2 separate regions of the Homo sapiens genome follow, and region 2 is linked to region 1. The links come from fine-mapping of genetic effects on gene expression. A gene starts in region 1. The other region holds a variant in brackets. All regions are shown on one strand. Distances are between the middles of the regions. Region 1 holds the start of PDCD11 (programmed cell death 11). Region 2 holds the start of CALHM2 (calcium homeostasis modulator family member 2).

Region 1 (14,889 bases):
CAGGGAAGGGAAAATATTAAGAAAAAAAGCCAAAAACCAAAAAAAACATAAAACCTATTAGTCAAAGAAATGTAAAATGAGATCAATATTTAATCATCAAACAAGCAAAAATAAAATTATGGTAAGTAGTAGTATTAAGTATGTGAGAAAACTAAGAATTCTCTCTCTGTTGCTTGGAGTATAAACTGGTAAAACCAGCCTGGCACGGTGGCTCATGCCTGTAATCCCAGCACTTTGGGAGGCCAAGGCGGGTGGATGCGAGGTCAGGAGATCGAGACCATCCTGGCTAACACGGTGAAACCCTGTCTCTACTAAAAATACAAAAAATTAGCCGGGCGTGGTGGTGGGCGCCTGTAGTCCCAGCTACTCGGGAGGCTGAGGCAGGAGAATGGCATGAACCTGGGAGGCGGAGCTTGCAGTGAGCCTAGATTGCGCCACTGCACTCCAGCCTGGGCGACAGAGCGAGACGCCGTCTCAAAAAAAAAAAAAATAAATAAATAAAAAATAAATAAACTGGTACAACCTTCAGAAAGTGCAAGTTGGCAGTATCTTATCGAATTATAAAATGAGTATACCCTTTCATCTAGCTGGTGTTTTTCTCCAGGAATTTACCCTTATTGAAATATTACAAAGTGGAAACACATTGTGTGGTTCAAAGATGGTCAATGAAATACTGTTTATGAAAATCTTAAAAGTCCATCTATAGAAGACTGATTAAAAAATGATGGTTTCCATTAAACGACACACAACAGGCACAGATCTTTGTGTACTGACATGGGAAGATGTCCCAAGTAACGTTCAATTTTGTAAGAAAAAATCTTATTTCTGGATTTTATAAAGCACGTCAATGGTTCTGGGTCTTGTCCCTAGACCAGCAGCATTAGCATCACTGGAAACTTGTTAGTGCAAATTCTTAGGCCCTACCTATTGAATCAGAAACTCTGGGTCCAGGAATCTATTTTAATAAGGCTTCTAGATAATTCTAAAGCATGCTAAAGTTTGAAAAATACTGCAGTAAATGAAATAGAAAAATAGTAAGTGTATTAAAAAAAACTCTGGAAGAATATATAGCAAAGGCAGCTTAATCTATAGTACCTGTGTATTTTACAAAGGCATGAATTTCTTTTATAGACAAGACGTATTCAAAAGGTCACCAGAACAAGAGCTGAAAATTCGTATGCATGACCGCCTATCTACCACGACCGACGCCACGCCGAGTCGATTGGCAACACAGACGAGCCGGTCGAGGTCCGGTCGAGATTGGTAGGCAGTGACAGTGACTCAGCTGGGTCTTGATGAAATGGAAGAGGGAGATATCTGTCAGGGAGTCATTACTATGGAAACTGGAACTCCCCCATTCAAAGGCTTTCAGAGGCATTCTTGTGTAAAGAATTGGCAATGAAAATTTGAGAAAAATGACCTTAATTTTCAAGTTTCAAGAAGGTTCTTGGAGCAATGAAGGAAATCCAAACTTCCTTAGGCCTCTTCAGAGACCTTGGCCAGTCTAGCCCAAGTAGGAAAATCTCCATTAAAAATAACTTTATACACTTGATCTTAGCCAACAGAAGCGATAAAAGCAACTTTATAATGTAGCTATCAACTGTTCCACTTTACTAAACTTACTAAAGACATACTTCCCCCCGCCCCCCGCCCCCCCACCAGCTCCATTCATTTCATGATACATTTTTGGATTCACTTCTTAGGGTTTGAAGTAGGTTTTTAGGAGAAACGCTACAGAAAATAAGGGCTTCACTTTGACCATTAACGAAAACCTCCACTACATTACATCTAACTAAACTTTTTAGGAGGATATGCCCAACAATACTACAGCGCTTTAAATTTCCCTTTAATTTACACACAATATGGGAGGAAGGCTGATGTTTTGTGATATCCCACAGAAGACTAATTCTGATTGCAGGGAAGTGCATGGTTCAAGAACTGAAATCAATCACTCAAGTTAGTCTGGGTCTTAAAGGAGGAGGACTCTTGAGAGGCTCAAATGGAGGGCCAAATGGGGAACGGGATTGTTGCTGGTGAGATAATGGAGTAAGGTCGAAAAATTTGGTTCTGCACTCTTCAGCACGGTGCAGGTTACTTTAGGGCAAAGATAAAGGAACCCTTGTGTTTACAGTGCCCTTTGTAAGACTCCTAGTTGTGATTTAATGTTGTTAAACGGTGGTATGTTTTAATTAAGTTGCTAACTGCCCTTCTTGAGACAAGGTCTCGCTCTGTCGTCCAGGCTGGAGTGCAGTGGCGCGATCTCAGCTCACTGCAATCTCCGCTTCCCGGGGTCAAGCGGTTCTCCTGCCTCAGCCTCCCGAGTAGCTGGAACTACAGGCGCGCGCCACCACGCCCGGCTAATTTTTGTATTGTTGGTAGGGACGGGGTTTCACCATACTACTCAGGCTGGTCTCGAACTCTGGACCTCAGGTGATCTACCCGCCTCGGCCTCCCAAAGTGCTGGGATTACAGGCGTGAGCCACCGCGCCCGGCCACTAACTGCTCTTAAATGTAACTAATCCTTCCGTGCCTCTCTCCACCTGTGAGATGGGCACTTTATTAAAGGTCCAAAGTGACCAGTAGCTCTTGTTACTTTCTCTGTTCCTCGATATTGCTATTTTCCTTTCTAACTTAACACCTACCTGGAATGGTGAGATCACGAGGTAAGGAAGGCAAAGATGAGTGAGAACCACTCAGGTAACAGAAGCAGCCTCTTGCATTCACGGAGTTTACAGCTCTCTGTTCTGGTTACCTCCTAGGAAAGGCCTTCCCACTGATCGTCTATAGACTGAAATCTAACCCTTTTACAGCGGGCCTGGCGAACTGTAGGGGCCGGGCCACATTCACTCGCTTTGAAAAAGGCTGCAGCGCACCTAAAGGAGGCCCGGCTGGCCAGCTTCCTAAAGCACAGCTCGGTGGGAACAAACAGCTATGGACATACAGAAGAAAAGAGGTTAATTCGGCCGGTGATGGGGATCAGAAGCCCTAGTCCTCGTCCAATATTACGTCACTGGGTGACCTCGAGGGACGCTTCGCGGAGGGCCTCATTTTTCTCCACTGGCGAATGCAATCTAAGGGTCTTCGGAAACTGTGGGAGCCCTTGGGCGCACCTATCCGCCTCACCTCGAGGCTTCTCACCCGCTGGCCGCCCCCTTGCGCCCCTCGTTTTTTCTAGCTCCTTTCCCATTCCCCACCGTTTCTCTCCTCCAAAGCTAAGAACTCGAGTTGCTCCTCGGCCAGAAACGGCGGGCGGTCCTGCAACGTGCAGGCGCCAGGTCCAAGCCCGGACTCCCCTCTTCACCCACCTGCCAAAGCCGCAAATTCCGCAGCTGGTGTCCTTCAACGAATGTAACCACCTCTCGGCCCGGCCGGAAGAAGCCACCTCCCCCGCACGCGTTTAGCCGGCCCCCGCGATTCGGCCTAATGCGACGATTGGCTATGGCTCCAAATCCCGCCCTTCCGATTCCTGTCTCTAGGTCACCTCCGCAACACAGCAACGGAAGTAGGGTGTTGAGCCCGCCCACACTTCCGGAAGAATTGCACTGGACTGTGGGTATCCTGGTCTCCGCGTGTGTGAGTACCGCGGCGCGAGGTTAGTGGTAGCTGGGTGCAGACGCCGTGGCGCTGGTGAGTAAAGGCAGAGGCGAAAAAGGAGGAAACCTCATGGCTGTCAGGTCTGTCCCAGGCCTGGTTCCCTGCCAGGCACACGCTAGATGAGTGTGGTTCGGCCACCTTAGCCCCGCTTCGAAGCCGGCTCTGTTGTAGCAGCCCCTGTAACCCCAGGCTTTGTGTTCGGAAAGTAGCCTAAGTATCTTCTGTGCCCCTGGATCGCCTTACTTTTCAGAGCCTCAGTTTCCCCTTGCTTGAAAGGAAATTAAGGGTGAAATTATCAGCAAACTAGACCCCCCAAACTTTCCTGTTTCTATGAATCATATACCCATCCCTGATTCCATATCCTTGGCCCCACCCGGTCATCACTTCTTTAGTCTAAAGCCCTTGTAGAGTCTTATTACCAAGTGTCTGTCAGAACTAACCTCTCCTGTCTTCTGTTTTCACTTATACCCAGTTCTGGTTCTCATGGTTTCTCTGCTGTACTGCATTTGAATCCTTTTTTTTTTTTTTTTTTTCTGTCACTGAGATAACAGGAAACAGTGCATTTGAATCCTTCTACCGAATTTACTTGCCTTCAATACTGTCTCTCTTCATGTCCAATCTATAGCCTGCAGTATATTTTTCTTGCTTACTGTTCTCTCGCTTTCCCTGCTTAAGTCTCTGACTTGCCAAAGCAAACTACCCATATCTAATTCAAGGTCTTCCACAAAAAAGCCCAACTTCTCCTTTAATTTTTTTGAGACAGAGTCTCACTTTGTCTCCCAGGTTGGAGTGCGGCGGCATGATCTCAGCTCACTGCAACCTCCGCCTCCCGGCCTCAAGCAATTCTCACGCTTCAGCCTGCCTAGTAGCTGGGACTAGGCGCAGGCCACCACGCCCGGCTAATTTTTGCGTTTTTGGTAGAGACGGGGTTTCGCCATGTTGACTATGCTGGTCTCGAACTCCTGACCTCAGATGATCCACGCGCCTCGGGCTCCCGAAGTGCTGGCATTACAGGTGTGAGCCATGGTGCCCGGCCTTCTTTAAAATTTAACTTCAATTTTTATGCTTTAATCTCCCAGTGGTCTAGTTGAATAATTCCTCAGAGACAACAGCAAGCCTTTGAGCAGTTGTTTGATAGGGAAATTGCTGGTGTTTATTGAAATAATAGGCTTTTCCCATCCATGTCTTTTCTCACATTCCCTTTCTACCTGTCAAGCTTCTGTTCATCTTTTACCCTTAAGCTAAAAAAGATCTTCTTTATGAAGCTTGCCTCCTTTACTTATCCCTTCCTACATTGCCTTATCCCTTCCTACATCTTTGTGATCATTTATAATCTGATTTGCATTTTAAGTTACTTGCATAATTGTTTTATCTTCCAAAAAGTGTGCATGTTCTTTGAAGGCAGAGGATTATATATTCATCTGTAGAGCTACAGTGTATCTCTGACTTAACTGTAGCTTCTTAGTGAGTATGTGCTACATTGAATCTATAACTTCTTTTTCTGGAAGAAGGTGGGTGGACTTGTGGTTTTGAAGCAGAGACCTTTGGAAAGATGAAGTATGGATTATTCCGGGCCTGACATCTAAACCATCTATGTTGTAGTCCTGAATGTTGTCTAGCATATTGCTGGAACGTTCTGTCTCTTGCCCGTTGATAACACCTTTCTGAAATCTGCTACCAAGACAACATGTCACCATTATCCTTTGCATTGTTTTTAGGAGACCCAAACATGGCAAACCTGGAAGAAAGCTTCCCCCGAGGAGGTACAAGAAAGATCCACAAACCAGAGAAAGCTTTCCAGCAGTCAGTTGAACAAGACAACTTATTTGATGTAAGTAGTATGCTTGTTTGGTGACACTCACTGGAAACTTTTACTGTAGTGTCTTGTGAAAAATGAGCCTTATTTGAGAATGTGTTATTTTTCCAGATTTTTTTTGCATTGAAGTCTACTTCTATAAATTTAACTCATTTAGAGAGGCCATACCACCACAAGGCTGTATCTTTTGAAGCTTGGCATTTAGTATTAAAGTACTGTTATTAGCTGGGCGTAGTGGCTCATGCCTGTAATCCCAGCAGTTTGGGAAGCCGAGGCAGGCGGATCACTTGAGGCTAGGAATTCAAGAGCAGCCTGGCCAACATGGTGAAACCCCGTCTATACTAATACCAAAACTAGCTGGGCATGGTAGTATACCTGTAGTCCTAGCTACTTGGGAGGCTGAGGCATGAGAATTGCTTGAACCAAGAAGGTGGAGGTTGCACTGACCCAATATTGTGCCACTGCTCTCCTGCCTGGGCGACAGAGTGAGACTCTGTCTCAAAAAACACACAAACAAAATAAATAAAGTGCTGTTCCTTGTTCTTAGACACTCTTTGCCATGTGCCATGTTGATTAAGGATGGAGAGGAAGCAGTTTTTTTTTTTTTTTTTTTTTTGAGACGAAGTCTTACTCTGTTGCCCATGCTGAAGTGCAGTGGCGTGAGTAGCTGGGATTACAGGTGCCTGCTACCATACCTGACTAATTTTTGTATTTTTGTTAGAGATGGGGTTTCACCATGTTGGCCAGGCTGGTCTGAAACTCCTGACCTCAGATGATCTGCTCACCTTGACCTCCCAAAGTGCTGGGATGGCAGGTGTGAGCCACTGCACCCAGCTGATGTTTTTGTTATTTTTGTTGTTGTTTTTTCAAGAGATGGGGAGAGATGATGTTTCACTCTGTTACTCAGGCTGGACTTAAACTCCTGGGCTCAGTCGATCCTCCCTCCTTAGCCTCCTGAGTAACTGGAACAACAGGCATGTTCCACTGTGTCTGACTGATCATTGCATTTTTACAGGGGTTCCTTGCCACATGTAATGGTCAGAATTTGCATTAGACTTCACAGTCTCACCTAGACTAGGCTGTGCTCCAAATGCTTGGGGAAAGGGAACTAACATTTGAGTGTGTGGCTTTAGGTCTGTATTATGTAATCTTTTCAACTGTACTGTGAAGCACTGATTGCAATTCCATGATGAGGAACAGTGTCTTGCTCTGTCGCCCAGGCTGAAGTGCAGTGTTGTGATCTCAGCTCACTGCAACCTCCACTTCTTGGTTCAAGCAATTCTCCTGTATCAGCCTCCCGAGTACCTGGGACTATAGGTGCGTGCTGCCATGCTCGGCTTAATTTTTTTGTATTTTTAGTGGAAAAAAAAATACAGCCTGTTGGCCAGGCTGGTCTTGAACTCCTAATCTCAAGTGATCTTCCCGCCTTGGCCTCCCAAAGTGTTGGGATTACTGGTGTGAGCCACTGTGCCTGGATTTTATATAATTTAGCTGAAACCACATAGCTTGTTATGGTGGAAAAGATGAGAATTTAACTTGGGTCTGTGTAACTCTGGTGTCCATTTTCATGCACTATTCTACATTGCTTCTCAAACTGGGGAACCCAGTGTTCATCCCAGTCAAGAGAGGGAGAACACAAGAGAGAAGAGACTTTGGGAACATGAAGGAGGCTTCTCAGACCTTGGGCAGAGGGAACATTGGCGGCCCCCCCCCTTTTTTTTTTTTTTTTAAGCAAGAATTAAAGGAACAATTGGGAGTGGGATGGGGTAGGGTGGAGTGAAGGAGTAACAAAGCAAGGTGAGTGATGACCTGAAATAGGAGGGAAAACTCAGATTGCTTCTTATTCTTTTGGGTCTTTGTGGGCTCCCCCTACCCGCTTCTAGATTTCTACTGAAGAGGGATCCACCAAAAGAAAAAAGAGCCAGAAGGGGCCAGCAAAAACAAAAAAGTTGAAAATCGAAAAGAGAGAAAGCAGCAAGTCCGCAAGAGAGAAGTTTGAAATCCTTAGTGTTGAGGTTTGTTAAAGTTGGTTTTCATTTAAACAATCGACCTTGGTTGCTTAAGTTTGTGTATGTTCTTTTTTTCTTCTTTCCTTCTTTTTTCCCTTAATTCCATTTTCCCCTTAATATATTATATTTCATGCGTGTGTGTGTAGAGATGCTTGGAATTTATGCTAAGGAGTAAGCATGATTTCCTTCCATTGCTAACCGATGCCAGGAATCTTTTCTTTTTCTTTGTATTTATTTATTATTTTCCAGAGACAGGCCTGACTCTGTTGCTCAGGCTGGAATGCAGGCATGATCATAGCTCACTTTAGTCTTGAACTCCTGGGCTCAAGCAATCTTCCTGCCTCAGCTTCTCCTGAGAAATTGGGACTACTAAAGGTGTGTGTCACCATGCCCAGCTAATTTTTAAATCTTTTGTAGGGCTTGGATCTTGCTATTTTGCCCAGGTTGGTCTCGAACTCCTGTGCTCAAGCAATCCTCCTGCCTCAACCTCCCGAAGTGTTGGGATTATAGACATGAGCTACCCACCGTGCCTGCCCCCTTTTTTTCCTTTAAAGCTGTCGTGGGCTTGTTTGTGTCCTCACAGGACTTGAGTTCTGATATATTCAGAGGTTAGAATGGACAGTAACTTTAGCAGTCATTCTCATCTTACCCATTCATTTCATAGATGTGAAACCCATTTCCAAGAATTGAAGTGGTCTGTGTTCCTTACATTTTTATTTTTTATTTTTTAATTTTGAAATTATTTTATTTTATTTATTTATTTATTTTGAGACGGAATCTCTCTCTGTTGCGCAGTCTGGAGTGCAGTGATGTGATCTCAGCTCACTGCAACCTCTGCCTCCCGGGTTCAAGCGATTCTCCTGCCTCAGCCTCCTGAGTAGCTGGGATTACAGGTGTCTCACCACGCCTGGCTAATTTTTGTATTTTTAATAGAGACGGGGTTTCACCATGTTGGTCAGGCTGGTCTGGAACTCCTGACCTCGTGATCTGCCTGCCTTGGCCTCCCAAAGTGCTGGAATCACAGGCGTGAGCCACCGCGGCCAGCCTGCCTTACATTTTTAGATGATAACACCAATATGTGTTAGTTATAAAAAAGAAAAGAAGTTAAATAACTTTGAAGAGGAACATTCATATTTGGCTAGATTCAGAGTCAATATTTTGTCCTATATGATACTTTAAAAAAATTGTTAGACTTGGTGCCAACATTAGAAAACTAAAATTTTTTTTTTTTTTGAGACGGAGTCTCGCACAGTCGCCCAGGCTGGAGTGCCGTGGTGCCATCTCTGCTCTGCTCACTGCAAGCTCCGCCTCCCGGGTTCTCGCCATTCTCCTGCCTCAGCCTCCTGAGTAGCTGGGACTACAGGCGCCCGCCACCACGCCCAGCTAAGTTTTTGTATTTTTGGTAGAGACGGGGCTTTACCATGTTAGCCAGGATGGTCTCAATATCCTGACCTTGTAATCTGCCCGCCTCCGCCTCCCAAAGTGCTGGGATTACAGGCGTGAGCCACTGCACCTGGCTGAAAACTAAAAATTTTTTTACATGAAAATATGATTTCTGGCTTCTTGTAAAAATTTGAAAGTACTGATAGCAGAAGGCCCGTATTCCCTCATGTTTGTAATGACAAGGAGCTGAGTAGTGGTTGTGTCCTTTAGACCTGGCATGGTCACTCCAGACTGCCATTGTCTCCACTAGCTGGCTTCCTTCATTGTGTTGTCTGCCAGGCATTTGAGTTTGGGTTGCTCAGAATAATGTAAAAGGCAAAGGTGTCCTCCAGTATCCCAGTGCTGTTAACACTGTTGTATAATCTAGACCTTTTACAGTGCTCGGTCAGATATTTGAGAAGTTCACTGATATGTACACATGTGTATTTCTTTTCATTTATAAAATTCCTGTAGGTTTTTATTTTTTATTTATTTTTATTTTTTTATTTTCGAGACAGAGTTTCACTCTTGTTGCCCAGGCTGGAGTGCAGTGGCATGATCTCAGTTCATTGCAACCTCCACCTCCCAGGTTCAGGTGATTCTCCTGCCTCAGCCTCCTGAGTAGCTGGAATTACAGGCACCTGCCACCATGCCCGGCTAATTTTTGTATTTTTAGTAGAGACGGGGTTTTGCCGTGTTGGCCAGGCTGCTCTCGAACTCCTGACCTCAGGTGATCCACCCGCCTCAGCCTCCCAAAGTGCTGGGACTACAGGCATGAGCCACTGTACCCGGCCTATTTTTTATCTTTATTTTTTGAGATAGGGTGTCACTTTGTTGCCAAGGCTGGAGTGCAGTGGTGTGATCACAGCTCACTGCAGACTCAACCTCCTGGCTCAAGCGATCCACTCACCTCCGAGTACCTGCGACTACAGGCGTGTACCACTATGCCTGGCTAATCTTTTTTTTTGGAGAAACTACGTTGCCCAGGCTGGTCTGAAACTCCTGAGCCCAGGCAGTCCTCCTGCCTTGGCCACCCAAAGTATTGGAATTATAGGGCGTAAGCCACTGTGCTTGGCCTTATAGCTTTTAAATTGACACTAGAAGCCAGACCTTCCAACCTTCCCTATTGTTGTTCCCATCCTTATTGTACACATTTCACTTTTTCTCTTCTAGTCCCTGTGTGAGGGAATGCGTATTTTGGGTTGCGTGAAAGAGGTGAATGAACTGGAACTGGTGATTAGTCTCCCCAATGGCCTCCAGGGCTTTGTGCAAGTCACTGAAATCTGTGATGCCTACACCAAAAAGCTGAATGAGCAGGTGACACAAGAACAACCTCTGAAGGTAAGGGAAATCCGAATGAAGCCTGTTATTGAAAATAAGTGGAACACAAATAGATTTAAAATTACAACTTTGCCAGGTGCTAAGAAGGGAAAGTACAAGGTCCCGTGAGAGTTTATCATAAAGGAATTTTTGACTAAGTCTGGGAGCCTGGAAGACTGTTGAGGAAGGGATGCTTAAGCTGAGATCTAAAGAATGAGGGTTCCCTAGATAAAGAAGGAAAGGCGTTCAGGCAGAAGCAATGTAATATATAACAGAGAGAAGGCTAGTATGGCTAGGTAAGGAGAGCAAGAGAGAGTGTGATGTGAGATGGGCAGGAGAGCCTGAATGGGGGCCAGGGCACATGCAGCCTTGTAGACCATTTTAAGGGTTGTTTTTAAATTCTAGAATCAATGGGAAGTCCTTGAAATGTTCTCACTGGGGTACAGCATAACGTGTAGATTGAAGAGGCATGAGAAGTTGCTTAGAGACAAGTTAGGAGGCTCTTGTAGTCGTTCACGTCCTGAGATTGATGGTGACCTGGGTTCAGGATTTCCTGAGGACTGAGGAGGCAAAGTCATTGCTTGGTGATAGATTCAATATGGGTGGTGGGGCAGATAGAGGTGTCAGGGCTGAGTTCTAGGTTTCTGTTTTGCATGATTTGATGCTTGGTCATGACATCCTGAGATAGGAAACCCTGAAGGGGACCTGGATTGGGAGAGATGATCATGATTTTTCAGTTTTTGAGACAGAGTCTCACTCTGTTGCCCAGGCTGGAGTGCAGTGGCATGATCTCAGCTCACTGAAACCTCCATCTCCTGGGTTCAAGTGATTCTCCTGCCTCAGCCTCCCCAGTAGCTGGGATTACAGGTGCCAGCCACCACACCCAGCTAATTTTTGTATTTTCGGTAGAGACAGGGCTTCACCATGTTGGCCAGGCTGGTCTCTAACTCCTGACCTCAAATGATCCACCCGCCTCGGCCTCCCAGAGTGTTGGGATTATAGGTGTGAGCCATCATGCCTGACCTATGATTTTTGTTTGTTTGTTTGTTTTTGAGATGGAGTCTCACTCTTTAGCCCAGGCTGGAGTGCAGTGACATGATCTCAGCTCACTGCAACCTCCAGCTCCCAGATTCAAGCAATTCTCCTGCCTCAGCCTCCTGAGTAGCTGGGATTACAGGCAGATGTCACCACACCCAGCTAATTTTTGTATTTTTAGTAGAGACAGGGTTTTACCATGTTGGCCAGGCTGGTCTCAAACTCCTGACGTCAGGTGATCTGCCCGCCTTGGCCTCCCTAAGTGCTGGGATTACAGGCATGAGCCACCACACCCGACCCTCAAGTGCTTTTTAATGGTCATGTAAGAGATAGACTGCAAAACTGACCACTGGATTTAACAATATGGAACTCATTGGTGATTCTATGGGAGATAGAGTGGTGGAGTGAGAGGGGTGGAAAGCAGATTGCAGTGAGCCGAAGAATGAGTAAGGGATGAAGTAGAGGCAGAAAGTGTAGACAACTCTTTTGACAAGTCATTTTACATGCCAGTTATGTGGAAATATTTGAAGGCCTTATGCTGAAATTCAAGACTGTGGCTAGGCCACAGACCCAACTTCCTTTGTGGATGGGGGGTTATTCCTCACCCACCTTTTGGGTTCTCTGGGGTCTGAGGATGAGAAGTCACTGAGCCAAAGCTGGGTAATGGATTTTTGGTTCAGGAGAAGGGTGTATATCAGGTCTTTCTCATTTGTGTTATGCAGGACCTACTTCACTTGCCTGAACTTTTCTCACCTGGAATGCTGGTAAGATGTGTGGTGAGCAGTCTGGGCATCACAGACAGGGGCAAGAAGAGTGTCAAGCTGTCTCTGAACCCCAAAAATGTCAACAGAGTGCTGAGTGCTGAGGCCCTGAAGCCTGGCATGGTAGGTGTCTAGGGTCGGGGAGGAAGAGTGGCAATGTGCCTTCTCTCTGCCTCTGAGGGAGCGTGGTCTAGGCCACCTTTTACTTTCAGCTCAATTGTGACACATAGGAGTGGTTCTTTTTCTGGAAGGAAGGTCTCTTGGGTTCTTTGGGCACTTAATGGACATTGAAGACTTGAACCTAATCATTACATTGGAGAAGAGAAAAGAGAAAGCAAGTCCAAATTTCTTTTTTTTTTTTGAGTCGGAGTTTCGCTGTTGTTGCCCAGGCTAGAAAGCAGTGGCATGATCTCGGCTCACCACAGCCTCCACCTCCTGGGTTTAAGCAATTCTTCTGCCTCAACCTCCTGAGGCAGGGATTACAGGTGCCATGCCCAGCTAATTTTTGTATTTTTAATAGAGACGGGATTTCACCATGTTGGCCAGGCTGGTCTCAAACTCTTGACCTCAAGTGATCTGCCTGCCTCAGCCTTCCAAAATGCTGGGATTACAGGCATGAGCCACTGTGCCCTGCCGAAAGTTTGCTATCTTTTGAAACCACTTGAGGCAAGAGACTCTTCTATATTGTTCCATCATTCAGCTGTGTTAAACATTCCTCATTGCCTGGCAACCATCAGCTCCTTCAAGCCTGGGAGTGTTGAATTTGATGTCTGCTGTCTAGTGGGATTGTGGCTTAAGGTTTAATGTGGGAGTGGGATAGTGGCAGAGTGTGAGCTTAGTGGCAGGAACATTCAAGTTTGGATGTTTTGTGTGTGTCCCATTACCTTTGAATTGGAACTTCTGGGACTACTTTCTCTTCCCCAGCTACTTACAGGTACCGTATCCAGCCTGGAAGACCATGGCTACCTAGTGGACATTGGTGTTGATGGGACCAGAGCTTTTCTGCCACTGCTGAAAGCCCAGGAGTACATCAGACAGAAGAACAAAGGTGAGGGCAAGAAAAGGGGCCAGTACATGGTGGTGAGGTGGTACATGTGGGGATTATATTTAAGTGCCATTTTGATGAGTAACATGACAGAATGGTGACCCTGAAGGTGCTGTGGCTTTGGTAAAACCAGCACTTAATCCTAGTTAATAGGAAAGGAAAGATGTATGAAGGGCCAGCGAGTGGTAAGGTCTCACTAAGATCTGATGGAACAGTGTCAGTTTTTCTAACCTGGAAGATTCCACTGCAATTAGGGCCCCCATGGCTTCTGAACCAGCAGTCTCCTGGCTTGTGTATTTTTGTGTGGTAATTGAATTCCAGATCAATTAGGATAACTTCGTTTCCTTCTTGTAGTTGGCCCCTTAAAGATTGGGAATTTGGGGAGTAACTGATGCTAACTGGGCAGGTAGGCCATGGGTCTTTTCAGGTATTACTTGGGCCCACGTTAAAAGTCCTTCTCATAGATACATTTTTCCTTTTGGGGCCTGGGTCTGGGCTTACAGGTGCTAAACTAAAGGTGGGTCAGTACCTGAACTGCATTGTTGAAAAGGTGAAAGGCAACGGAGGAGTTGTTAGTCTGTCTGTTGGTCACTCAGAGGTTTCTACGGCCATTGCTACTGAACAGCAGAGCTGGAACCTTAATAACTTGCTACCAGGACTGGTGGTCAAAGCTCAGGTACAGAAGGTAAGCTGTTATGCTACTACTACTTTTTAAAATAAAAATAATTCTTTTCAAAATATTAAATGCATAAAGTCTAAAACTACTGTCTGATAAAGGTAGTCACTAGTCACTTACGCCCATTGAGCATTTCAAATGTGGCCAGTGCCACATGTTGAAATGATAATATTTTGGATATATTAGGTTAAAAAACTATACTAAAAAGTCTTTTGTTTCTTTGTAGTTTCTAAAATGTGACTGCTAGAAAACTTAAAATTACTTGTGTGACTGACATTGTATTTCTGTTGGACAGTGCTGATCTGAAAGGTCAAATGGAATTAAAAGGTTTATAATGAAGAACTTATCCGTCATAACCCCCATCTTTAACTCTTTTAGCTTATCTTTTGAAATTTCTCTCCATATTTTTGAGTAATAAGCTTCTGCTGGTATCTCTTGATTTTTCCATCTTAGGCATTGAGTTTTAACTTTTTATCAAGGTAGAAAAGATTTTGGTCTCTCTTTTTTTAATTAAAAAATATATATATTTTCCTAGCACTTTGGAGGCCGAGGCAGGCTGATCACGAGGTCAGGAGATCGAGACCATCTTGGCTAACACGGTGAAACCCCGTCTCTGCTAAAAATACAAAAAATTAGCTGGGTGTGGTGGCGGGTACCTGTAGTCCCAGCTACTCGGGAGGCTGAGGCAGGAGAATGGCGTGAACCCAGGAGGTGGAGCTTGCAGTGAGCCAAGATTGTGCCACTGCATTCCAGCCTGGGCGACTGTGCGAGACTCCGTCTCAAACAAACAAACAAAATATATATATTTTATAGAGGTGAAGTCTTACTCTGTTGCCCAGGCTGGTGTTGAACTCCTGAGCTCTAGTGATCCTCCCACCCTGGCCTCCCAAAGTGCTGGGATTACAGGCATGAGTGACCTCACCCAGCATACTAGCATGACTTTCTTTTTTTTTTTGAGACGGAGGCTCGCCCTGTTGCCCAGGCTGGCATGCAGTGGCGTGATCTCGGGTCACTGCAACCTCTGCCTCCCGGATTCAAGCGATCCCCCTGCCTCAGCCTCCCGAGTAGCTGGGACTACAGGCATACACCACCACACCCGGCTGGTTTTTGTGTTTTTAGTAGAGACAGGGTTTCACCATGTTGGCCAGGCTTGTGTCAAAATCCTGACCTTAAGTGATCTGCCTGCCTGGGCCTTCCAAAATGCCGTGATT
Region 2 (14,372 bases), 58 kb after region 1:
CAGACTCCAAGAAAAGGAGAAGCTGGAGGAGGAGGACCAGGAGGAACAACAGGAGGAGGAGGAGGAGGAGGAGGAGGAGGAGGAGTCTGATTCTTCCCCCACTTCACAGCCTGGAGCTTCCAGCCTAACTTCCTGGGAAAGGCAGTTTGCATCACTGCTGGGGAAGAATGGGTTAAAGTCAGCCCCCTTTGCCCCATCCTTTTCCCTTCTTGGCTTCTAGGCTCCTAATTAGCTCCCTGTGGAGGCCCTGGGTTCATAAACTGGCTCAAAGTGGGGTACAAGATACCTGCACAGGGTGGGTGGTGAGCAGAGGATGGGCCAGGCCATCTTCTGAGACCACTGCCCCCAGGCCAAGGATGGGTCACATCCAGACCCCCAGTGGGACCTCCTCCAACATCAGTGACGACAGGAGACTGGCGGCTCGGGGAGGGGCAGGACTGCTCCCTGTTCAACCGGGTGGAGGGAACCTCAGCTAGGGGCCTCTCTCCCTCTGGGCAGCGTGGGACAGGCCCCACCATGCTCCGCTGACACCTGGCACACCCCAGGGAGGGCCCCTTCCTTACCTGGGGCCAGCTGTGGGCACTTGTGGCCATGGCCTCCTCGGGGCCGGACTCTCCAAGTGGCCTCCAGGAGGGCGGTGCAGGGCAGCGGCGGCCTCCGCCGTTCCCTCCCGCTTTTCTTCTGCACGGGGGCCTGGGGCTGGTGGCGGCTTCAGACTAATCTAACTCCAGAAAAGAGAGAAGAAAACAGTGGGATGGAGTCTGCGCGCCAGTGAGTGGAAAAACAGCCTCCCGGCGCCACCAGGCAGAGGAGGGCGGGCCCCGAGGGCGGCGCGAGAGGAGAGGAGCCGAGAGGAAGTTGAGATGCCTGTTCTGCAGCTGCTGCGCGTCCCACCGACCCGCTGCTCGCCGTCCCTGGGCCGTGCTGGCCCTCCGCCCTCGGCCCAGACCCGGACCGGGCCATGCTCCACACCAATGGGACCAGTCGGGAGGGCCACGTGGGGATGTGGAGGCATTGGGGAGATCTGACCCAGACCTGCCCCCCATGACAGTTTCAAGAGCACCCCACGTACTTGACCCCCGCTGGGCAGAAGCTACCAAAGGAGACCCCGCGAGGGTCAAGGGAGGGTGTCGTCAGGCCCGCGCTGAGCCCTGCAGGATGCTCAGGGCCAGGGCCCCACCCTCTACTGGCCCTTCTCCCTCAGAGTTGTCCATTGACTGGACAAACCATCCCCAATGCTGACTCTTTGACCTATAGTCAGCTAACTCCCCGGGACCTGCTTCGGATCCCTGGAGGGCTGAGGATTGAATTCAGGAGCCTAGGGATTCTCCGGGTCCTGCAGGCAGAGCTCCAACTGGTGGGTGAAAGTTACAAGGAGGCAGGTTTCTGAAGGAAGCCCTGTGTAATAATCAGAGCTGCCCAGCCTGTATCTAAAAGTGGTCAAGATGCGGGCTGAAGCGTCACGGGTCAGGAATGCTGCACAGGAGAGTCTACGGACAGGCTAGATGACCCTTAGCATGGAGGGAGAGGACCCCCGACATCTGTCAGCTCTGCAGTGCTCGTGGTTCCGTCATGGTGGAGCTGCCGAGTGACCCGCTGGCCTCCCTGAGCTGGGCTTGACCATATGTACGAAGGAAAGAAAAGGTACCAAGTTCTGCTTGTTTATTTGTTTGTTTCAGATCCCAGCATGTGCTAAACACAGTCCCAGATCCTTCCCTAAAAGTTATCTTCCTCTATCCTTACCACAATCCTGAAAATCAGGTCTTTTTTAAAAAATAATTTTTTCATTTTAAAAAAATTATAAATCTTCTCTTTATTCTTCTTCTTCTTCTTATTATTATTATTACTTTACAGAGACAGAGTCTTGCTATGTTGCCCAGGCTGGTCTCCAACTCCCAGGCTCAAGTGATCCTCCCTCCTTGGCCTCCCAAGTGCTGGGATTACAGGCATGAGCCACTCCGCCTGGCCAAGCAGGTCTTCTAATATCCATTTTATAGACAGACACACTGAGGCTTAGAGTGGCTGGGTGACTGGCCACAAGTCCTGCAGTGCTGGTATTTGAACTCAGGTGTGCCTGACCCAAAGCTTTGCTCTTCATCACATTTGTACCTCCTGATACCTCCGGGCCTTCTCTTCCCACTGGAAGTGCTGCCACCCACCAACATACACCTTGTTTTTTGCTCATCCTAATCCTCCCTGACTTCAGGGCCCATACCAACTCCTACCTCCTGGAAGAGCCCTCCCAGCCCACCTTGGCCCACAAAGATCTGAGCAACTCCTCCCAAATAATTAAGAGGAGGGAAACTGGACCCCAGAAGTGGGAATAGAGGGAAGGATGGATAAAAAAGGATGGAATCATGCCAAGATCAAAATGAATCCTTAGATGCTTGGGACTTATGTCTCAGAGCTGAGGGCGGTGCTGAGAAACCTATCTGTACCTCTGTTTCCTCCTCAACAAGATGGAAGCTCGAGTGTTTGTGTTGCTGTCTCATCCCTGCCCAGGGGAGGAGGAAGGAAGTCCTTAGGTTCAGAAATCAACAAATACATTAGCCACCCTGTGCTGGGTGCCTACTATGTGCCATGTGCTTTTACACACAGCAACCCCATGATGGCGGGCCGGGGGGGCCTCATCCTCATTGTATAGATGAAGAAACGAAGGCACAGGCAGTGATGCAGCTGGCCCAGGGACAGGGTTTGTGAGTGGTAGAGACACCATTTGACCCAGTTCTGTCTCACTCTGGAATCTGAGCTGCTTTCTCTTTACACTGCTCTCCTCCACCCTCATCCCACCTGGGCTAGAGCCTTGGAGCTCCTCTTAGCCTCTTAGAACTCCATCCCCAAGAGGTGGGGTCTTTGAGAAAAATGGAGAGACTTCAGCTTCTGTGTCTAACTTCTCAAGCCTTGGGGATGGTCTGATTTCCCCTGGAGACCTGGATGTGACGGGGGTATTAAGGTGGTTTTTCAAAGACCCCTCTACAGGAGGACTTTTGTGCTTGGTTTGTGCTAAATAAACATGCAGTCCACCTGGACAATTGTCACATGACCCCCATGGTGACCACACACTCTGACCTCTTCCATGTGAACCTAGCTTCTGACATCTTGTCTCATCGCCTGTCACCCCAGGTGTGTCACACCAGGTAGGCTGTGTGTCATGTCCTTATGGACCTGCCCCGGCACACCCAGTCTCACCTACGACACGCTTGCCCAAATCAGAGGGCTCCCACTTCATGAGACGCCTGATGATTCCCACTCCCCGAGCCCGGAGCATAAAGGAAGAGAGGTACTGAACAGCCACAGACGAGGGTGGACCCTGGGGCAGGGATGTCTGTTGAACCTGGGAGGAGACAGTGAACATCAGCCTGGGAAGGGCTGGGCAGAGGGGAGCCATTGGTCCCTGTACCTGCCATGACAGTTCCGACCCCTTTAGACTAATACTGCTCATGGGCCCACTGCCCTAGGGCCATCCAGGGCAGTGTCACACCTGAAGGCATCAGATCCCCTTCCAGCTCCAAATTTCCTGCCTCCAATGGGCAGGCGAGTGCTAGGGAGTGTGGATCTGCCTAGGGGAGTACTGCCCAGCACTGAAACCCTTCCTTTTTCCACCTGGTTTGGGGGTTGGAGGGGCTGTGGGCTCAGATCCCCGTTCCTGCCTCTTCAGCTGGCCACACCTCACACTTTGCTGAAGTAGGTGGCCACCTCCTTACGCGGAGGCCGGGGCCCACCCCCAGCCCAGCCGTTGCCCATCAGCGGTGGCTCCTCCTGGCCCAGCCGCAGAGGCGGTTTGCATTTGTGCCAGCTCGTGAGCAGCCTGTTCATGGTGCCTTGATCCGTGATGCCACGCAGCTTCTCCCTTTCCTCCTCCGCACCATCGGGGGTCGTGGGGGCAGCTGCGGAAGCAGGGGCCGTGGCCAGTGTCCCGTGGGTGTGACCCAGCTCCAGGTCATGGTTCATGGCCTCGAAGAACTGCTGGATGCAGACCTTGGCAAAGGCTTTGGCGTGCTCCGTGCACGTCTCGTCGAAGAGCTTGCGCTCGATGTCGATATAGTGGGACCAGTACTTGCTCTTGAGGAAGGCGGCCTGCGTGAAGCAGGGCCGCACAGAGCGCACCACGAATGCCAGCAGAGTGGTCAGCAGCACGAAGGACCAGCCCAGCGCCTGTGGGAAGATGAGAGAGAGTCACGGGGCACTGTCCTTGGGCCTCCGAGCCTGTTCAGACTCCCAAAGCA[C/T]TCTCTATGCCAGTGCCTCTAGGGCAAAGAGCACAAATTGGGCAAGTGAGCTTGCCTCTTGGCCTCCATTTCCTCATCTGTAAAATGGGCATAGAAATTGAAATAATGGAGATAGGTGCACCTCATGGAAAGAAGATCACGTGGGTAAAGCACCCACCGTGCTGGCGGGGCACCCAGGGCCCAGGAGTTAAGTGGGCAGACCCTGGAGTTAGGCTGCTTGGGTTTGAATGCTGTCTCCACTATTTACTAGTTGACCAGGAGCAAAGCACTCAACTTCTCTGTGCCTCAGTTTCCACACCTATAAAGCAGCTGGTGGTAGCACCTATCTCAGAGTGTTGTTGTGAGGACTGAATGTGATAAGCTTAGTGCAGTGCCTGGTACCCAGTGCTCAGTGACTATTAACCATTACTGTTGTGCCAATAGGCCCTCACTTACTTACTGTGCCTCTTCTTTCAGGAAGCCTTCCTTGATCTCCCCAGGCCATAGTGGCCCATTTTCCTCTGAGTCCTGAACCTCTCCTTTGGCTCCTAGTATTGTCACCAGTGCCAAATGAGCACCTCCTCTGTGTCGGTTCTGAGCTGGGCCTTCAGGGGTCATAGAGGCGAATCAGGCAAGAAATCAAACTCTGCGCTGAAGAGCACCCTGCGCTTGGTTCCAGCTCTGCTCTGTCACCTCACTGCAGGGCACGGGGCAGGATGCTCCCCTGGCCCACGCTTCAGGGTTAGGCCCCAGCCGCACAGAGAAGCACTTGGGCAGATCAGGACTGGGGCTGAGGGCAAGCCCAGATGCCTATGGGGCCAGGCAGGTCGTGACAGAGCACACGGGGTGGGGAGCCACTGAGCATGTGCATAGGCTGGGGGCACCCCAGCCTGTTCCAGGAGTACACGCGGGCCTGGTGGGGCTGGATTTTCTGGATTTCCAACTTGAAAATCTGATTTTTATGTGAAAAATTCCGATTTTTATTTTAATCTTATTTACTTTTTTGTTTTGAGACAGGTCTTACTCCGTTACCCAAGCCAGAGTGCAGTGGCACAATTACATTTCACTGCAGCCTTGACCTCCCAGGCTCAAGCAATCCTCTCACTTCAGCTTCCTGTGTAGCTGGGACTACAGGCATGTGCCACCAAGCCTGGCTAATTTTTTTCTTTTCTTTTCTTTTTTGGAGACAGGGTCTCACTATATTCCCTAGGCTGGTCTTGAACTCCTGGGCTCTAGCAATCTTCTTGCCTTGGCCTCCCAAAGTGCTGGGATTACAGACATGAGGCACATCGTACCCGGCCCATTCTGGTTTTTAGAAGATGCCAACAAATTCTAAAGTTGAATCTAGAATTCAGTCTCTGAAGGCCAAATGAAACATGTATAGGCCAGGCAGCCTGTGGCCTCTGGGGCCCTCTCAGCTTATGATGTGGTGGCTTAAAGGTCAGGTGGAATGACAGCTGCCAAGGCCCTGAGGCCGGGGACGATGGGATGAGTGCCCACAGGAGAGGAGGCACAGGTTAGGGAGGAGAGGGAAGTAGAGTTCAGTCGGGATGCTTAGAGCATGACATTCACCAAGGTCATCTGGGTGGTGACAGAGGCCTCCCAGGAGAGAGGCCCCTGCTAGAGTGGGAAGCCAGGGGTGTCTGGACTTGCCAGGGCAGAGTGTGCACGTTTCTCCAGTCCTTGCAGAGCAGGCTGGCCCCAGCCCCTCGCCCTGACAGCACCTGGTCTGCCAGCTGTGAGGGCAGGCTGCCTGGGTGGTCCTCCCCACACGGCACTGACTGGGTTGGAGAAGGCCCGAGAGGCTTGGATGGGTGAGCATGGAGGGGCAGAGGATGTGGGAGTAGGGCTGGGGAGGACCCTCACTCTGGCTGACCCGTCAGTGGTCTCTCCAAACTGCCTTTCCATCACATCCCAACAGGGCCTCCTCTCTCTCACCCATGCACCCCCTTCCAGGACACCCTGGTCCTCAGCTCCCACTCCCCAGCAGGGAAGCACCAGATGGGGGCATTTGCTAGGGAAATGTACCCAAATGGCCTAGCCACCCACTGGCCTCACCACTGCCGAGGCCCGGAAGAGGGAAAGCATGCAAATTCCTCCAGCTTCCAAGCTCAGAAATCAGGATGGGGATGCAGGTCCACTCTGGGGACCTCAGGATAGGGGTCAGGCCCACTCACCAGAAGCCTCTGGACAGAGGGAGCCAAAGCACGTTCTCCGGATGGCCCTGGGCTGAGGGCAGATGCGTGGCTCTGCCTTCAGCCTCAGTTGGGAAGATGCCCCCCACACCTCGGAGCTCCACCTGAGCAGAGGCCCCATTTTGAGAGGTAGGGGGATAGGGCCCTCCCAGAGGGACCTTGATCTGCCAGGGAGACCCAGCGTGAAGCCATGCGGCCCCTCACCTGGGAGATGCAGCGGAGGTAACGCACGGCCACCTCTCGGGCCAACAGCCAGTCGCCATCGTAGATCTCAGGGCAGGGCACCCGGGCCAGCAGGCGGGCGAGCTCGGGGGCAGGAAGGCCGGGTGCCAGGCTGCCGTTGCCCAGTGCGCTCACGGGCACGGCAGTGCAGAAGGCACAGAGGAAGCATTTGCCGTCGAGTAGCGTGACGGCCACCCAGACGACAGGCGCGATGAGGGCGCGCTGGGCCATGGAGCAGAACATGTAGCGCAACACAGCGGGGTCCTTGGCCCGGCGGCCCAGCGGCCGCTTCCACTCTTCGGCCAGCATGGACACGTTGTTGTTCATGACCAGGCCAAGCAGAAAGAGCACCAGGGGTGGCGCCAGCAGGATGCCCGCGCTGTAGGCTGCATTGTAGCCCGGCAGGCAGGGGCAGTTGAAGTCGAAGGCCGAGTACATCTGGGCACTGGCCAGGGCCATGATGCCACAGATGCCATTCATGAAGGACTCCTGGTTGGACTGCAGGAACTGGAAGATCATCCGGAACTTGTCCATCATGCCCGCTGTGGGGCCCGGCCTCCTCTTCCCAACTCACTGCTGCCTCCAAGAGGGCCCCTGCTGCCCACCCTGCCCACTGGGTGCCCACCTCATGACTCGGGCTCTCCTGGCTGGGACCAACAGAGCTCAGAGCAGAGGCTGAGGTCACTGTCGCTTTGAGGAATCTTTAGTCAGGTGCTGGCTGAGAGGATGCAGATTGACCAATCCTGTGGGTTCAGCCAGGGCTGTGCCCCTCCCTCCTGGGCTTCTCTCTCTCTGCAGCCGCCTCCACCTCCGGCGCTAGCACCTGCTAGAGACCAGCTTTCTGTGGGTGTGGGAGGGAGGGAGGGAGGGGCGGGAGAGAAGGCTCAGACACAGACTGGGAAGACACTGTCTCCAGCAGGGCTGGAGTTTGGAGAGTCCAGGGCTGCTGCAGGGGCCTGAGGTCCTGGACCTTGTCTTCTGGGCTCCTAGGAAGCTCATCGCCCTCCTTTTGCCCTTCCCACTGGGGGTCTCCTCCATGCTGTATCAGAATCCTAGAGGGCTCCTCCATCAGTTCCCCGATGACGGTGTGGTGCTGCGGTGGTGGTGGCTGCAGTGAGGGTGCTGCTGGTGGTCGTGGGGATACTAGCCACAGAGGGGATGGCAGTGGTGGTGCAGGGGATGGTGCTAATGTGGACGTGGCGTAGAATGAAACATCCTGGATTTGCTGGCAGAGGACTTGAATTTGATAAGTTGCCTGGGCAGGGGCTGTGGCCTGTGAGTGTGCTGCAGGGGTCCTTGTGTCAGCCTGCCTGTGTCTCTGTGGGTGTGCCTGTGTGTTTGTGGGCTGTGGATGGCAAACCCTTTCCTGGCTCCACCTCCGACCTCTACTTCCCCAATCAAAAAATAAAGGGGTCTGCATGCTGACAGCAAGGGGGTGAAAAAATTAAATGGGTGGGGTGATGGGGTTTCATGCCTGGAGTTTGGGCCTCCAGAGTGCCTGCAGAAACCTGGCCAGCCCTCCTCCACAGACACATCAAAGAGGAGGAGCTGAGCATGCTCGCTCTGATGCCCAGGGCTCTCCCTGACCTCCCAAGGGCAGGTCAGATCCAGCTCCAGCCGGGGGGCTCCTGTCTGGGGAAAGGGGTGGGGTCTGGGGCTGAGACAGAGCCTGGCCAGGACATCCCCATGGGGCCCACAGATCTGTGCCTCCCCATGTGTGTGCCCACATGTGAGCTCACTGTGCCTTTGGGCCTCTGCATCTGTGTATCCGTGTGTGTGTGTGACCACGTTAGTGATCTTTGTGTCTGAGGGTCTCTGTATCACTGACCAGAACCAGCATTGACCCAGGCTTGCCCTGGGTGGAGCCCCATGGCAGGCACTTACATGCATTGCCTGTGTAATCTTCTTACAATCCTATGGGACAGGTACTGCCATCCCCATTTTACAGAGATGGGGACTGAGGCTTGGAGAGGTTAAGTTATCAGCTGAGAGTTACCCAGCTTGTAGGTGGAGGAGTGGGACTGGAACCCAGGCTAGCTCTCTCGTGGGGCTGGGAGTGGGGGGTGGAGGAGGGGTCAGGAAATGTTTTTTGGCCTTTCTCTTCTGGGCAAATCAGGCTCCTGTTCTGCTGGTCTGGGTGGAGATGCTGGAGTGTCACCAATAGGATACAGTGGGGAAGGATGTTGCTCCTCTTGCTGTCAGGCTGGGCTTGGGGCAAATGGAGCCCCCAGGCTGGTAGCCTCCGGAAGACCCTTGCAGAGGCTCCCCAGGGAACACTATAGGTGGATGGCAGGATGAGGGAGGTCCAGTGATGGAGGCGACCTACCCTGCACGTCTCCTGCAGTGTTTGCGTGCATGGCCAACAGCAGGTGTGAGCTGATGCCAGAGCTGGGGTGGGCTTGGGGTGGTCCAGGAAACCAGGAGGAGTGGTTTCAGGGGGCCACCTGGAATTCTGTCTTGTATATTGCACACAGCTCCCTGTTTGTAGATAATGTGCCTTTCTAGTAGTGCCCATACTGCGTGCTCTAACCACATATACACATTCTGCAAATTCTAAGCGCAGTGTTATTTTAAAATACTTGAGGCTGGGCACAGTGGCTTAAACCTGTAATCCCAGCACTTTTGGGAGGCCAAGGTGGGAGGATCACTTGAACCCAGGAGTTTGAGGCTGTGGTGAGCCATGATCACAATACTGCATTCCAGTCTGGATGACAGAGCAAGACCTTGTCTCTAAATAAATAATAATAATAATAATAATAATAATAATAGTTTGATTAGATTCTCAATCAATCATTATCATAAGAATTTTGGTTGCAGGGTGGGCACTGTGGCTCACAGCTGTAATCCCAACACTTTGGGAGGCCACGGAGGGAGGATTGCTTGAGCCCAGGAGTTTAAGACCAGCCTGGGCAACATAGAGAGACCCAGTCTCTATGCCTGAAAAAAAAATGTGTTACAGTTGTCAGTGAGAGTGAAGAGTGAGGGTTAATTCTTTTTTTTGAGACAGGGTCTCACTCTGTCACCCAGCCTGCTGTGCAGTGGCATGATCTCAGCTCACTATAACCTCTACCTCCAAGCCATCCTCCCACTTCAGGCTCCTGAGCAGCTGGGACTATAGGTGTGCATCACCATGCCCGGCTAATTTTTGTATTTTTTCCTTGTCTCAAAAAAAAAATTATCACCTACTTGGGGTAAGTTTTTTTGTGGGTGGTGTTTATCCAACATTTGAAGAAATCATCATTAAAGAGCCTTCATGAGGGCGGGTGCGGTGGCTCACACCCATAATCCCAGCACTTTGGGAGGCTGAGGTGGGCAGAGCACAAGGTCAGGAGATCAAGAAACCCTGTCTGTACTAAAAATACAAAAACTTAGCCGGGCGTGGTGGCGCACGCTTGTAGTCCTAGCTACTCGAGAGTCTGAGGCAGGAGTATCGCTTGAACCCAGGAGACAGAGGTTGCAGTGAGCCGAGATCGCGCCATTGCACTCCAGCCTGGGTGACAGAGTGAGACTCCTATATCTCAAAAAAAAAAAAAAAAAAAAAAAAGACCTGATGAGCTGGGAGTGGTGTGGCTCATGCCTGAAATCCTAGCACACTGGGACACCGAGATGGGCGGATCACTTGAGATCAGGAGTTCCAGACCAGCCTGGCCAACATGGTGAAACCTCGTCTCTACTAAAAATACAAAAATGGCTGGGTGTGGTGGCTCACACCTATAATCCCAACACTTTGGGAGGCCGAGGCGGGAGGATCACCTGAGGTCAGGAGTTCGAGACCAGCCTGGCCAACATGGTGAAACCCCATCTCTACTAAAAATACAAAAATTAGCTGGGTGTGGTGGCGGGCACCTGTAATCCCAGCTACTCAGGAGGCTGAGGCAGGAGAATCACTTGAACCCAGGAGATGGAGGTTGCAGTGAGCCAAGATCATGCCACTGCACTCCAGTGTGGGTGACAGAGCGAGACTCTGTCTCAGAAATATAAATAAATAAATAAAATAAAGAGCCTCGAATAGGAATTGCCTGTGGTCATTTCATGCAAAAAAACACCTCATATTAAAAAGTGCTCACGAAAGCAAGCTCATTTCTCATTTTGAGAAGTTTAGGAGGTTTCATTTGGATGTTTTACACAAGTCTTTCCTAATACTTTATATTTCATTTTTTCCTATCATAATTATATAAGATAAAGAAATAGTAATCTTTTTGTTTTTTTCACCAGGCATCCCATGGATGTCTCCTAGTTCCCTCACTGTGGCCCAGTGTTGTATATCAACGTCATCATGGATACACCTCCTGTGGGAGGTGATTAGGCCATGAGGGTGGAGCCCTCGTGAATGGAATTGGTGCCCTTATAGAAGGGACCCTGGACCCTGGACCTCCACTCTGCAAGGATACAGTGAGAAGGCAGAACCCAGCCTCAGGTACACTCATCTCAGACTTGCAGCCTCCTGAACTGTGAGAAATAAATGTTTGTTGTCTGTGGTATGTTTTGTTACTGTGGCCCAAGCTGTTGGACACAGGGACACCCCTGGGCTCCCAGGCACCACCCTTCCCTCACGCTGCTGCTCTCCTGGAACACGGTCGTGCCTCACTGCCCATCCAAAGCCACATCCCGGCTCCACCTGCTCACTCCTTGTTTCTTCCACTCGATGGTCAAATTTTTCTCTTACCAAGAAGCTGGCCAGGTGCAGTGGCTCACACCTGTAATCCCAGCACTTTGGGAGGCTGAAACAGGCAGATCATTTGAGGTCAGGAGTTCGAGACCAGCCTGACCAACATGGTGAAACCCCGTCTCTACTAAAGATACAAAAAAAAAAAAAAAATTAGCCAGGTGTGGTGGTGTGTACCTGTAATTCCAGCTACTCGGGAGGCTGAGGCAGGAGAATCGCTTGAACCCAGGAAGCGGAGGTTGCAGTGAGCTGAGATCATGCCACTGCCTGGGCGACAGAGCAAGACTCCCTCTCAAAAAAAAAAAAAAAAAAAAAAAAAGCCATGTCACAGAGCTAAGAGCAACCCAACCAGTGATCTGGGTTCAAGTCTCAGTCTGGCCACACACTAGCCAGGGACCTTGGGCAAGTCATCTAACCTCTGGGTGCTGCAGCGTTCTCATCCGTGAAATGGGGAGAATGATAGCGCCTGCCTCCCAGGTGGTTGTGAAGATTCAATCAGCTGTGCAGGTCAAGAGTTTCGCAGTGCGCCAGGCACACAAGGAGTGGTCGTGAACCATCTTTACAACATTGTAATAATAATAGTGATCATCTCTGCACCTGAGCTTCAGTAGTGCATTTTCAAAATCTGTATTAGTTTTCTATTAACTGCTGTAACAAATGTCCACAAATACAGTGGCTTAAAACAACATGAATTTTTTTTTCTTGTAGTTCTAAGGTCAGGAGCCTGTAATGGATCTTGGCTGACTAACATCAAGTGGCTGGCAGGCTGTTCCTTCTGGACGCTCTAGAAGAGAATCCATTTCCTCGTATTCTCTACTGTGTAGAGGACACCCACATTCCCTGGCTTGTGACATCGCATTCCTCCAACCTCTGCTTCCCTCATCACAGCTCCTTCTCTGACTCTCACCCTCCTCCTACCTCTCTCTCTCTCTCTCTCTTTTTTTTTTTTTGAGATGGAGTCACTCTGTCACCCAGGCTGGAGTGCAGTGATGTGATCTCAGCTCACTGCAACCTCCGACTCCTGGGATCAAGTGATTCTCCTGCCTCAGCCTCCCTAGTAGCTGGGACTACAGGCGTGCATCACCATGCCTGGCTAATTTTGTATTTTTAGTAGAGACGGGTTTTCACCATGTTGGCCAGGCTTGTCTCGAACCCCTGACCTCAGGTGATCCTCCCCTCTCAGCCTCACAAAGGGCTAGGATTACAGGAGTGAGCCACCGTGCCGGGCCCTACCTCTCTCTTATAAGGACATGCAGGACCCACCTGGCTAATCCAGGATCATTTCCTCATCTCAAAATCCATAATTTAATCACATCTGCAAAGCCCTTTTTGCCATGGAAGGTAACATATTCACAGGTTCTAGACATTAGGAGGTGGACTCTTGGGGGCCCATGGTTCTGTTTAACTTCAGTAGGGGTCTTTGGTGGTGCATTTATCAGTGCTTAGTCTTCTCCATCTCTTCCCTATAACTCCCAGGTCACGACTAAATAAATAAAAAGCAGGATGTCACACACATTTTGGAGCATGGTGGCAAACTCAGCCATGGTCACCACTGTGGGATGTACACTCGCCTCCTGCTTCCTGGCCTTGGGGCTGTTGTCCAAGCACCCAGAGGGCACAGCTGGTGAGTGCCCTCTGGTTTGGAGGAGTTAGGGGTGTCATGAAAAGCAGCATGCAAAGGAGGCTCCTGTGGACAGTGGGTGCCGTACTTTTAGGAAAATGCCCAATTTGCGTAGGAGAGTGTGAGTGTGGGGTGCGTCCAGAGATTGGGGCAGTGGAGGAGGCAGGAGCCAACAGCAAATGTGGCTGCCAAGGCATCTCAGGTGCTGGTAGGCTGGGTTATCAGAGGTATGAAGTCTCTACCTGAGAAAGATAAAATGCTACGTTCTCCTTCATCAGCCAAACCCTATGGGGGTGTATGCTGTGGCAAAATGGTAGCACTCACCAAGTCATTCACGTGTTCCCTTATAATTCTCAGCCTCTGTGCCAGGGAGGCTGGGGCCTTGTGCCTGAGTTCTGGTGCAGAATCTACCCTCATCCTTTACCATCTTCCCATTCTTCTCTGAGGGTGGCCATGGACACCAGGTGTAACAGACCTCTGTGCCCCGCCCACTCCCCTCAGACCTCACCACTACCTTCTTTCTTTTTTTTTTTTTTTGATATGGAGTCTCACTCTGTCGCTAAGGCTGGAGTGCAGTGGTGTGATCTCAGCTCACTGCAACCTCGGCTTCCTGGGTTCAAGTGATTCTCTTGTCTCAGCCTTTCAAGTATCTGGGACAACAGGTGCCCGCCACCACGCCTGGCTAATTTTTGTATTTTTAGTAGAGATGGGGTTTCACCATGTTGGCCAGGTTGGTCTCAAACTCTTGACCTCAAGGGATCCAACCGCCTCGGCCTCCCAAAGTGCTGGAATTACAGTCTTGAGCCATCACACCCAGCCTTTCACCACTATCTTCTAAAGGTTGCTCACTAAAAACAGCCCAGACTGTCTGCCTGAGGGCTTTTTTTTTCTGGCACTGGGTTTACATTTGGCCCAAGGAAACCTGGAGGTGCCCAGCTAGTGCCCTAGCCAGTGACAGCCAGAGATTGGTGAAGACATGCCACCTCCTCGTTCCTGGGGAGCGGTTACTCGTGTTGTGCTCTCCCCGAGCTCCCCGGTCGGATCATGCTCTGGTTGCCCACGGTAGTAACTGGCTGGCGGCTCTACCCTTGGTTGGCTTTCTTCCCTCTCCAGTATCACTTCTGTTCCTTGCAGGGTTCCCCGGAAGCAACATTCTTATAAGCTATGTGCACTCATTTCCTTTTCTCAGGACCTGCTTCTGGGAAATACTGTGGGTCTTTTAAATTTTTATTTGTTTATTTAGAGACAGGTTCTTGCTCCATCTCCCAGACTGGAGTGCAGTGGCACAATCACAGCTCACTGTAACCTTGAACTCGTGGACTCAAAAGATCATTAAGTCTCAACCTCCAAAGTAGCTAGGACTACAGGTGTGCACCACCACGCCCAGCTAGGGTTTTTTTTTTTTTTTGTAATTTTTGTAGAGATAGGGTCTTGCTATGTTGCCCAGGCTGGTCTCAACTCCT

Evidence for each region.
Region 2: its variant is fine-mapped to the expression of PDCD11 in whole blood (TOPMed, PIP above 0.99).

The regions. Positions count from the first base shown.
Region 1 is chr10:103,393,104-103,407,992 of GRCh38, forward strand. PDCD11 (programmed cell death 11) reads left to right here and starts at 3,523. Exons shown (of 36, transcript NM_014976.2): 1 at 3,523-3,627; 2 at 5,313-5,425; 3 at 7,294-7,425; 4 at 10,015-10,182; 5 at 11,919-12,080; 6 at 12,882-13,005; 7 at 13,506-13,687. The coding sequence starts at 5,324. It overlaps ATP5MK (ATP synthase membrane subunit k), which reads right to left and starts at 3,372. Exons shown (of 5, transcript NM_001206427.2): 1 at 3,306-3,372; 2 at 2,643-2,929. It overlaps MIR1307 (microRNA 1307), which reads right to left and starts at 1,298; the gene lies at 1,150-1,298. RefSeq lists enhancers at 2,635-3,467, 2,860-2,949, 3,100-3,349, 4,007-4,508, 4,509-5,009.
Region 2 is chr10:103,451,593-103,465,964 of GRCh38, forward strand. CALHM2 (calcium homeostasis modulator family member 2) reads right to left here and starts at 778. Exons shown (of 4, transcript NM_015916.5): 1 at 564-778. It overlaps CALHM1 (calcium homeostasis modulator 1), which reads right to left and starts at 7,308. Exons shown (of 2, transcript NM_001001412.4): 1 at 6,605-7,308; 2 at 1,648-4,155. The coding sequence starts at 7,159. The coding sequence ends at 3,670. LOC124902494 (a long non-coding RNA gene) reads left to right here and starts at 851. Exons shown (of 2, transcript XR_007062275.1): 1 at 851-1,644; 2 at 10,838-11,103. RefSeq lists enhancers at 1-389, 390-1,011, 7,159-7,318 and a silencer at 850-1,179. The variant C/T (reference allele first, on the strand shown) is at 4,227.